2 separate regions of the Homo sapiens genome follow, and region 2 is linked to region 1. The links come from fine-mapping of genetic effects on gene expression. A gene starts in region 1. The other region holds a variant in brackets. All regions are shown on one strand. Distances are between the middles of the regions. Region 1 holds the start of IMP3 (IMP U3 small nucleolar ribonucleoprotein 3). Region 2 overlaps PTPN9 (protein tyrosine phosphatase non-receptor type 9).

Evidence for each region. PIP is the estimated chance that this variant, and not a neighbour inherited with it, causes the effect.
Region 2: its variant is the best candidate, but not a certain one, in a credible set for the expression of IMP3 in regulatory T cells (Schmiedel 2018, PIP 0.70).

Annotation. Positions count from the first base shown.
Region 1 is chr15:75,638,062-75,642,374 of GRCh38, forward strand. IMP3 (IMP U3 small nucleolar ribonucleoprotein 3) reads right to left here and starts at 2,163. Exons shown (of 1, transcript NM_018285.4): 1 at 1,032-2,163. The coding sequence starts at 2,107. The coding sequence ends at 1,553. RefSeq lists an enhancer at 1,808-1,867 and a silencer at 2,158-2,317.
Region 2 is chr15:75,566,108-75,570,493 of GRCh38, forward strand. The region is part of intron 1 of PTPN9 (protein tyrosine phosphatase non-receptor type 9); the gene reads right to left. Among named protein-coding and RNA genes, the nearest start is that of PTPN9, 11 kb to the right of the region's middle. The variant A/C (reference allele first, on the strand shown) is at 2,413.

The DNA of each region.
Region 1 (4,313 bases):
CTATTTATTCTCCTTTTAGAAGGCTTGGCCAGGCACGGTGGCTCACACCTGTAATCCCAGCACTTTGGGAGGCTGAGGCAGGATTGCTTGAACTTAGGAGTTTGAGATCAGCCTAGGTAACATGCCAAAACCCTGTGTCTACAAAAATTAAAAACTAGCCAGGGGTGGTGGTACATGCCTATAATCCCAGCTACTGGGGAGGCTGAGGTGGGAGGACTGCTTGAGCCCAGGAGATCGAGGCTGCAGTGAGCTGTGACAGCTCCACTGCACTCCAGCTTGGGCCTTGTGTGAAAAAAAAAACAAAAAGAAAAAAGAATAAAGAAATCTTGAGTAAAACTTGGTAGTCTCCCTTCTTATTCTCTATCACTGCTATCATCTAAATTTCCAGGAACCTCCTGGGCCACTTCTAACCGCTAGATGGCCAAGCTACAGAGTGATTATTTCCTTAGGCAAGCAAACATCCCAGCCCTCTAATACGGTATTTCCTGGGGCTGGAATATCAACAGGAAGTTATGTGAGGAAGAGCTCTGCCAAAACACTCATTCCAAGGAAGGGACTGGTAAAGTGACAAATTTGCCCAATCCTGTACAACATCCTGCATCCTCCACATGTGGCCCTGTTGCACATCTAATCCACAGGCAGGTCACTCGCTGCTGACTCTATTCTTCTCTGGGCTCCTGGGACGTATAAATATGACTCTATGTAAGAAAACCAGAGGCTGGGCGCAGTTTGCTCATGCCTGTAATCCCAGCACTTTGGGAGGCCGAGGCGGGCGGATCACGAGTTCAGGAGTTCCAGACCAGCCTGGCCAACATGGTGAAACCCTGACTCTACTAAAACCACAAAAATTAGCCGGGCGCGGTGGCGGGCGCCTATACTCCTAGCTACTCGGGAGGCTGAGGCAGGAAAATTGCTTGAACCCGGGAGGCGGAGGTTGCAGTGAGCCGAGATCGCGCCACTGCACTCCAGCCTGGGTGACAGAGCAAGACTCCGTCTCTAGAGAAAAAAAGAAAACCAGACAGATTAAAAAGTTGCACTTACAAAGCAGTTGGGGCATTTATTGACATTTAAACAAGGGAGGAGATCCTGAACACTAGTCTCGCTCAGTTTATAAAAACTTGAGGCCAAACTCTCCATCATCTGTACACAGCTTAACCACGGCCAGGAGCAAGAATTCGAGTTAAACGAATTGAACCAGTCCAACCACAAGACGATAAAGGGAAACAGGGCGTGGGGATTTCCAGTTTTTCCTTTTACATTACAAAGTTTCCAACACAAGAAGCCAACAATACCCCAGTGCTGCACCAAGTTACTTCCCACTGTTTCCCAAGGCACAGTCAATTAATAATCAGTAGTCCAAGTTCTAAGAACATTCCCTGGAAAACAAGGACGCACCTCCCGTGGCTCTATGCATGGCCTGCCACTGATGAATCAAATTCTTAAGAACCTACGACCGTCTGATACCCTTGAGGAGAGCACCCTCATAGAATCTCCAGCATCAGGCCTCAGTTTTCCCATCTGTAAAAGACAGCCATGCAAAGTGGGAGATCCGCTAGGCTTCCAGATCGAAGTCATCGCGCTCCTCATTGTACTCTAGCACGTGCCGCTTGATCTTGGACGAGTCCACCCAAGTGACAAAGTCCTCCATGCTGCGCGTGACAAGGAAGGCGGGGTCGGTAACCACGTCAGGGCCCACGCGTACGTGCCCTTGCTCCACAAAGGCCACGGCAGCCTGAAGGTGCTGCGCCATGCGCAGCTTGAGGAGCACGGTGGGGAGGCGGCGGCGGCAGAAGGACGAGGCCGTGACGAAGTCGCAGAGCTCCAGCGAACCGCGCGTGGGCACCAAGCCGAGAGCATACAGCTTGTCCAGCAGCGCGGCCGAAGCGCGCACGCGGAACTGGTCGCGTTCGGGCAGGTCGCGCAGGCGCCGCGCCAGCTCACGCACGGCACGGCTCAGCTGGTTGTAGCGCGTGTAGTCCTCCCGCCGCTGCAGCCGGTAACGCCGCAGCACGCGCAGCTCGTGCAGGTTGTGGTCGGTGACCTCCCAGTTCAGGAAGTCCACCTGCTTCAGCAGCTTCTGCTCGTGGAACTTAAGCTTCCGCACCATGATGGCGGCAGCCGCAGCCGCAGGACCCGAAGCTGAGAGCGCGTTCTGGCATCCGCGCGATTTCCGCCGCGGCGCCCCAAGACCTGGACGGCCTGGGACCCTGGGCCAATGAAAGAAAGACTTAAAGTCACGCCCTCACTTCCCATTGGCCAGGGTGGGACCACGCCTCTGCACTGGGATCTCGCGTTTCTTCTTTTCTTCGCGTTTGCGAGGGAGGGGGTAGAAGCACCGGAGGTGGGTGGTTGGGAGCGGGTCCCTAGGCGGTTCCGCGCGGTTTTTAGTAGCCAAGACTGTATCCCTTTCTGCGGCAATCATTTCCTCCTAGACTTCTGTCCTTTGGGGACTTTCAGAGTCTCCCCCGCAAGAGCTGAAGAGGCCATTTCTGGGGAAGAGGGGTGACTGCGGCTTGTTGATTGGGTTTACTGTGCTAACTTGCACTGGGCTCCTGCCATGCCTTGGGGGAGCTTGCCGGAGCCGGCTCTCCTGGGGCTGACCTGGTAGTCCCCGCCGCCCGCCAGCGTCAGGTCCTTCACCTGGCATGCAGAGCGATCTCTCATTGTCAAGTTGGGATAGGTGGCACCGAACCCATGAAATACTGATTGGCTGCTTCCTAGGCCCACAGAAAAGGGATCTATAAGGGAGTCGCCTGGAAATCTGTATTATTAACTAAAGTGTCAGATGATTCATAAAACCCAGCAAGTTTGAGAAACTTGGACTATAACTACAAGTCCAAACCCTTTAGTCTGTGCTCAAATGAATTATCCTGACATGAATTTCTGGCCACCAAGCATTGAGTTAACAAATTTAATGCTGTTTCCGCTAGTTGCATCTGTAAGTTACATCTGAGTATAGCGCTGCAGACCTAACCCCTTTTTGCCCGGGCATTTGACGCCACCTAGCTTCTCACTGATCATTTTTGTTTTGTATGCTTTTCATTGTCTTTTACAATACAATATTTGAGGGTTGGGCGCGGTGGCACATGCCTGTAATCCCAGCACTTTGGGAGGCTGAGGTGGGAGGATCATTTGAGGCCAGGAGTTCAAGACCAACCTAGGCAAAAAAAAAAAGAAAAAAGAAGCGAGATCCCACCTCTGTAAAAAATCTTAAAGAATTAGCCAAGCATGGTGGTGCGCACCTGTAGTCCTGACTACCTGGGAGGCTGAGGGGGAAGGATCATTTGAGCCCAGGACTTGTAGGCTGCATTGAGCTACAATGGTGCCACCGCACCCCAGCTTGCACAACAGAGCCAGACCCTGTCTCAAAAAGATATATATATATATATAAAATATTCGATATCTGGAAAATAATATAATATGTAAATTATAAAGTATAATAAATACTCATAAACTTAGCCAGTTTAAGAAAACATCACCAGGCTAGGCATGGTGGCTCATGCCTGTAATCCCAACACTGGGAGGCCAAGGTGGGAGGATCACTGGAAGCCAGGAGTTCAAGACCAGCCTGGGCAACATAGTAAGACTCAGTCCCTATGGACAAAAAAAAAAAAAAAAAATTAGCCAGGCATGGTGGCAGCACCTATAGTCCCAGCTACTGGTGAGGGTTTCGGGGTAAGAGGGGGGAGGATCCCTTGAAGCCGGAAGTTCAAGGATGCAGTGAGCCATGATCACACTACTGCACTCCAGCTTGGGCAACAGAACAACATCCTGTCTCTAAAACAAACAGAAAGCTAATACAGATTGTTTGCTTTTTTAATCTAATTGATTTTTTCTTTTTTTTTTTTTGGAGATCGAGTCTTGCTCTCTCGCCCAGGCTGGAGTGCAGTGGTGTGATCTTGGCTCACTGCAACCTCCGCCTCCTGGGTTCAAGCTATTCTCCTGCCTCAGCCTCCTGAGTAGCTGGGACTGCAGGCACCTGCCACCACACCTGGCTAATTTTTTGTATTTTTAGTAGAGACGAGGTTTCACCGTGTTAGCCAGGATGGTCTCCATCTCCTGACCTTGTGATCCACCCACTTTGGCCTCCCAAAGTGCTGGGATTACAGGCATGAGCCACTGCACCCAGCCCCAGAGTAGGTCTTATTGAGAAGGTGATATTTTATAGGGGTTAAGCCATGTGTGGATATCTAGGGGGAGAACATTTCAGGAAGAGGAAACAGTGGAAATGCCTTAAGGCAGGAATGTGCCTGGCATGTCAGAAGAGTAAGAAAGCTATCTTGGCTGGAGCAGAGTGGGCAAGGAGGAGAGGA
Region 2 (4,386 bases), 72 kb before region 1:
AGATCTCCAAAAAACTTAAGGAAATAAGACAAAACAGATTCAGGAACGTTAAATAAAACACCGAGAGCCACAAAGGAAGCTGAGGGATTCCTGAGATCTACCAAAGGGTCATCACCATCACATCCCAAAAGGCCTAGGTTTTACTTATAAATCTTCTAGTTTATAAAAAGGCCAGATTTGCAATAATATTAAAAACTGAGATCTCAGCATTTAATAGCATAATCTTAAACGTGTAAAGAACACATAGTACTTTTCAGAAAGTGTTATTTTTCATTATAAAAGAAACGTAAGTGGCGGGACACAGTGGCTCATGCCTGTAATCCTAGCACTTTGGGAGGCCGAGGTGGGCAGATGACCTGAGGTCAGGAGTTTGAGACCAGCTTGGCCAAAATGGCAAAACCCCATCTCTACTAAAAATTTAAAAATTAGCTGGGCATGGTGGCAGGCACCTGTAGTCCCAGCTACTTGGGAGGCTGAGACAGAATTGCTTGAAGCCAGGAGGCGGAGGTTGCAGTGAGCTGAGATCGCACCACTGCACTCCAGCCTGGGCGACAGAGTCTCACTCTGTCTCAAAAAAAAAAAAAGAAAGAAACATATGGGCTGGGCACAGTGGTTCATGCCTATAATCTTAGCATTTTGGGAGGCTGAAGCGGAAGGATAGCTTGAGCTCAGGAATTTCAGACCAGCCTGGGCAACATAGTGAGGTCCTATCTCTATTAATGAGAAAAAAAAATTAGCTGGATGTGATGACACGGGCCTGTGGTCCCAGCTACTCAGGAGGCTGAAGTGGGAGCATCGCTTGAGCCTGGGAGGTCAAGGCTGCAGTCAGCCATAACTGTGCCACCACATTCCAGCCTCGGCAACAGAAACATATGATCATTGTAGATCATCTAAATAGCCCATTTTTTTTCTTTTTTTTTTTTTTTCAGATGCAATCTCACTCTGTCGCCCAGGCTGGAGTGCAGTGGCGTGATCTCGGCTCACTGCAACCTCCACCTCTCATGTTCAAGTGATTCTCCTGCCTCAACCTCTGGAGTAGCTGCAATTACAGGCGTACACCACCATGCCTGGCTAATTTCTTTGTATTTTTAGTAGAGACGGGGTTTTGCCATGTTGGCCAGGCTGGTCTTGAACTCCTGACCTCAGGTGATCCGACTGCCTTGGCCTCCCAAAGTGCTGGGATTACAGGCGTGAGTCACCGCGCCCAGCCTTAAATAGCCCATTTTTTAAAAGATTGGTTGTAATAATGATGTATATAATGAATATCATCATATTATCATAATGACGTGTATCTGTAATAATGATTCACATCAAAACAAATGCAAAGGTAAAGATTAGCTAGGTGTTCAAGCAATGAACAAGTAACTAATGGATGAACATCCCCAAACACTTCAGTCCTAAAGTCACAGATGACTTTTTTAGAACCTGCCCAGAAATTACTGTAGAAATAAATTCTGGCTTCAGAATAATTCAATAAACTTACCTGTGCTACCTACACTGAAAAAAGTGACAAGTACTGTGCCGGTATGTTGTGGATGGATTTGGTATTTCAGAGGAAACTGGTACATACTACAGAAACGGCCTTTCCCAAAGGAAAAATGAAATGCTGCCAGGCGCGGTGGCTCACGCCTGTAATCCCAGCACTTTGGGAGGCCGAGGTGGGTGGATCACAAGGTCAGGAGATCAATACCGTCCTGACTAACACGGTGAAACCCTGTCTCTATTAAAAATACAAAAAATTAGCCGGGCGTGGTGGCAGGCGCCTGTAGTCCCAGCTACTCAGGAGACTGAGGCAAGAGAATGGCATTAACCCGGGAGGTGGAGCTTGCAGTGAGCCGAGATTGTGCCACTGCACTCCAGCCTGGGCGACACAGCGAGACTCCGTCTCAAAAAAAAAAAAAAAGAAAACAAAAACTGAAATGCTTATCTCAGAAGCATAAATTAAAGAGAAAAATCATCTCTAATCTACTGTTTCGGTCTTACCATTTTATAGTTTGGACCTAAGAGATCAGCAATCCTTAATAAATAAGGTTTCCCATGAGTTCTGGAGCTTCTCTGCCTCCTGTTCGCACCCTCCATGTCCATGTTTAACAACCTAATGCCAGCCAGGTGCAGTGGCTCATGGCTGTAATCCCAGCACTTTGGGAGGCCGAGGCTGGAGGATCACTTGAGCCTAGGAGTTTAAGACCAGCCTGGGCAACAGAACGAGACCCTGTCTCTACAACAAATAAAAAATAAAAAATCTAACTGGGCATGGTGGTGTGGTGGTGCACGCTTTTAGTCCCAGCTTCTTGGGAGGCTGAGGTAGGAGGATTCCTTGGGCCAGGGAGGTCAAGGCTTCAGCAAGCCATGATCATGCCACTGCACTCCAGTCTGGGTGACAGAGTGAGACCTTGTCTCAAAAAAAAAAAA[A/C]AAAACAAAACAAAAAAAAAACAACCTAATGCTGGATGGACACAGTGGCTCATGTCTGTAATCCTAGCACTTTGGGAGGCCGAGGCTGGAAGACTGCTTGAACACAAGAGTTCGGGACCAGCCTAGGCAAGAAAGCAATACCCCCATCTCTTTAGAAAAAAAAAAAAATGTGCCAGGCATGGTGGTACATGCTTGTAGTTCCAGCCACTATAGAGGCTGAGGAAGGAGGACCACTTGGGACCAGGAGTTTCAGGCTGCAGCGAGCTAGGATCAAGCCACTGCACTTCAGCCTGGGCAACAGAACAAGACCCTGTCTCTTACTAAAAAAATTTTAAAAAGTGAACCAAACGCTTAAGAAGCTAACTCGGTTAGGTTCCTAAGGGGCCTTTTCAAAATCAGATATAAAAGGGCTGATGCCAGGCCCTCCAGCACTGAGAAGTGTAGGCTAAACTACCTTTTCTAGGAACATCTTCCCTTATTCTAGAAGAATAGGAATAGAAAACAGTGGTTATTTTAGTGGTCAGGAAGAGCAACCAAGATCTCGCATGGAGGTGTGCTTAGGGGGAAAATGTTAAAATAATTGATTAGGAAAAAGAAAGTACGAGAATTGTCTGATATACCAAGGCAGGATGGTAGACAGAAGCAGTGAAATGGCTGATATTACACTAGAGGTTGTATCTGAACAAATAATCAGGGTTAGGTTCTATGACTTCTAATCTTGGCACTGCAATGGACCAGCCACACTGCCGTAAAATGGGGCTTAATATTTAGAAAATAAAGTTTAAGTACTCCAAAATTACTATGTCTTTTCCAAGACAATAAAGGCATAAAAGTCAGAAAATGAAACTAAAATATACTCACAATGAGTCTTAACTTTTACCTCTTTAAAACAGTTTAGCTCCTGGCCAGGCATGGTGGCTCACGCCTGTAATCCCAGCACTTTGAGAGGCCGAGGCGGGCTGATCACCTGAGGTCAGGAGTTCAAGAGCAGCCTGGCCAATAAGCTGAAACCCCATCTCTACAAAAAATACAAAAATTAGCTGGGCGTGGTGGCGGGCACCTGTAATCCCAGCTACTTGGGAGGCTGAGGCTGGAAAATCGCTTGAACCCAGGAGGCGGAGGTTGCAGTGAGCGGAGATAGTGACAAGAGTGAAACTCCATCTCAAAAAAAAAAAAAAAAAAACAGTTCAGCTCCTTTCTAAAGGAGGGTCTTTTCAATTCATTCATAAGTACTAGGTTGGGTTCCTTAGAGAAAACCTCCAGGCCACTTAATATTCACAAAACTAAAGTCCAAGACCCTTGTGCTCAGAATTTTTTTTTTGAGATGGATTCTCGCTTTGTCACCAGGCTGGAGGGCAGTGGCGCGATCTCAGCTCACAGCAACCCCTGCCTCCCGGTTCAAGCAATTCTCCTGCCTCAGCCTCCCGAGTAGCTGGGACTACAGGTGAGCGCCACCACTCCCAGCTAATTTTTGTATCTTTACTAGAGACGGGATTTCATCATGTTGGCCAGGATGGTCTTGATCTCTTGACCTTGTGATCCACCCGCCTCGGCCTCCCAAAGTGCTGGGATTACAGGCATGAGCCACACCACACCCAACCAGAAATTTTTAATACAGCAAAATTCTCACATCCAAATGAGGTTTTACCTAATTGTTACTTACAGTATCATAAACTATCAGCAATAATGAAAATAATAAGAGTTCTTCACCTTTCCTTCCTTCTTTGTCTCTGTAGAAGACCTCAATTTAACATCATAAATCATTTGGTCCTTGACGTATGGTAACTTCCAGGGAGACAGATGACATTTAGCACAGGACATGTAAGACTGTGGGAAAAGGGAAGTTCTTGGCCGCAAGAAATGGGACAAAACCCTTGCCTTTGGGAAAAATGCCAAAGATCTCTGAAGTCCACGCTAAAGCAGTTAAATTTTTAGCTTTAAAAGATTCCATTACAAAAATCCAAACCAGACTGG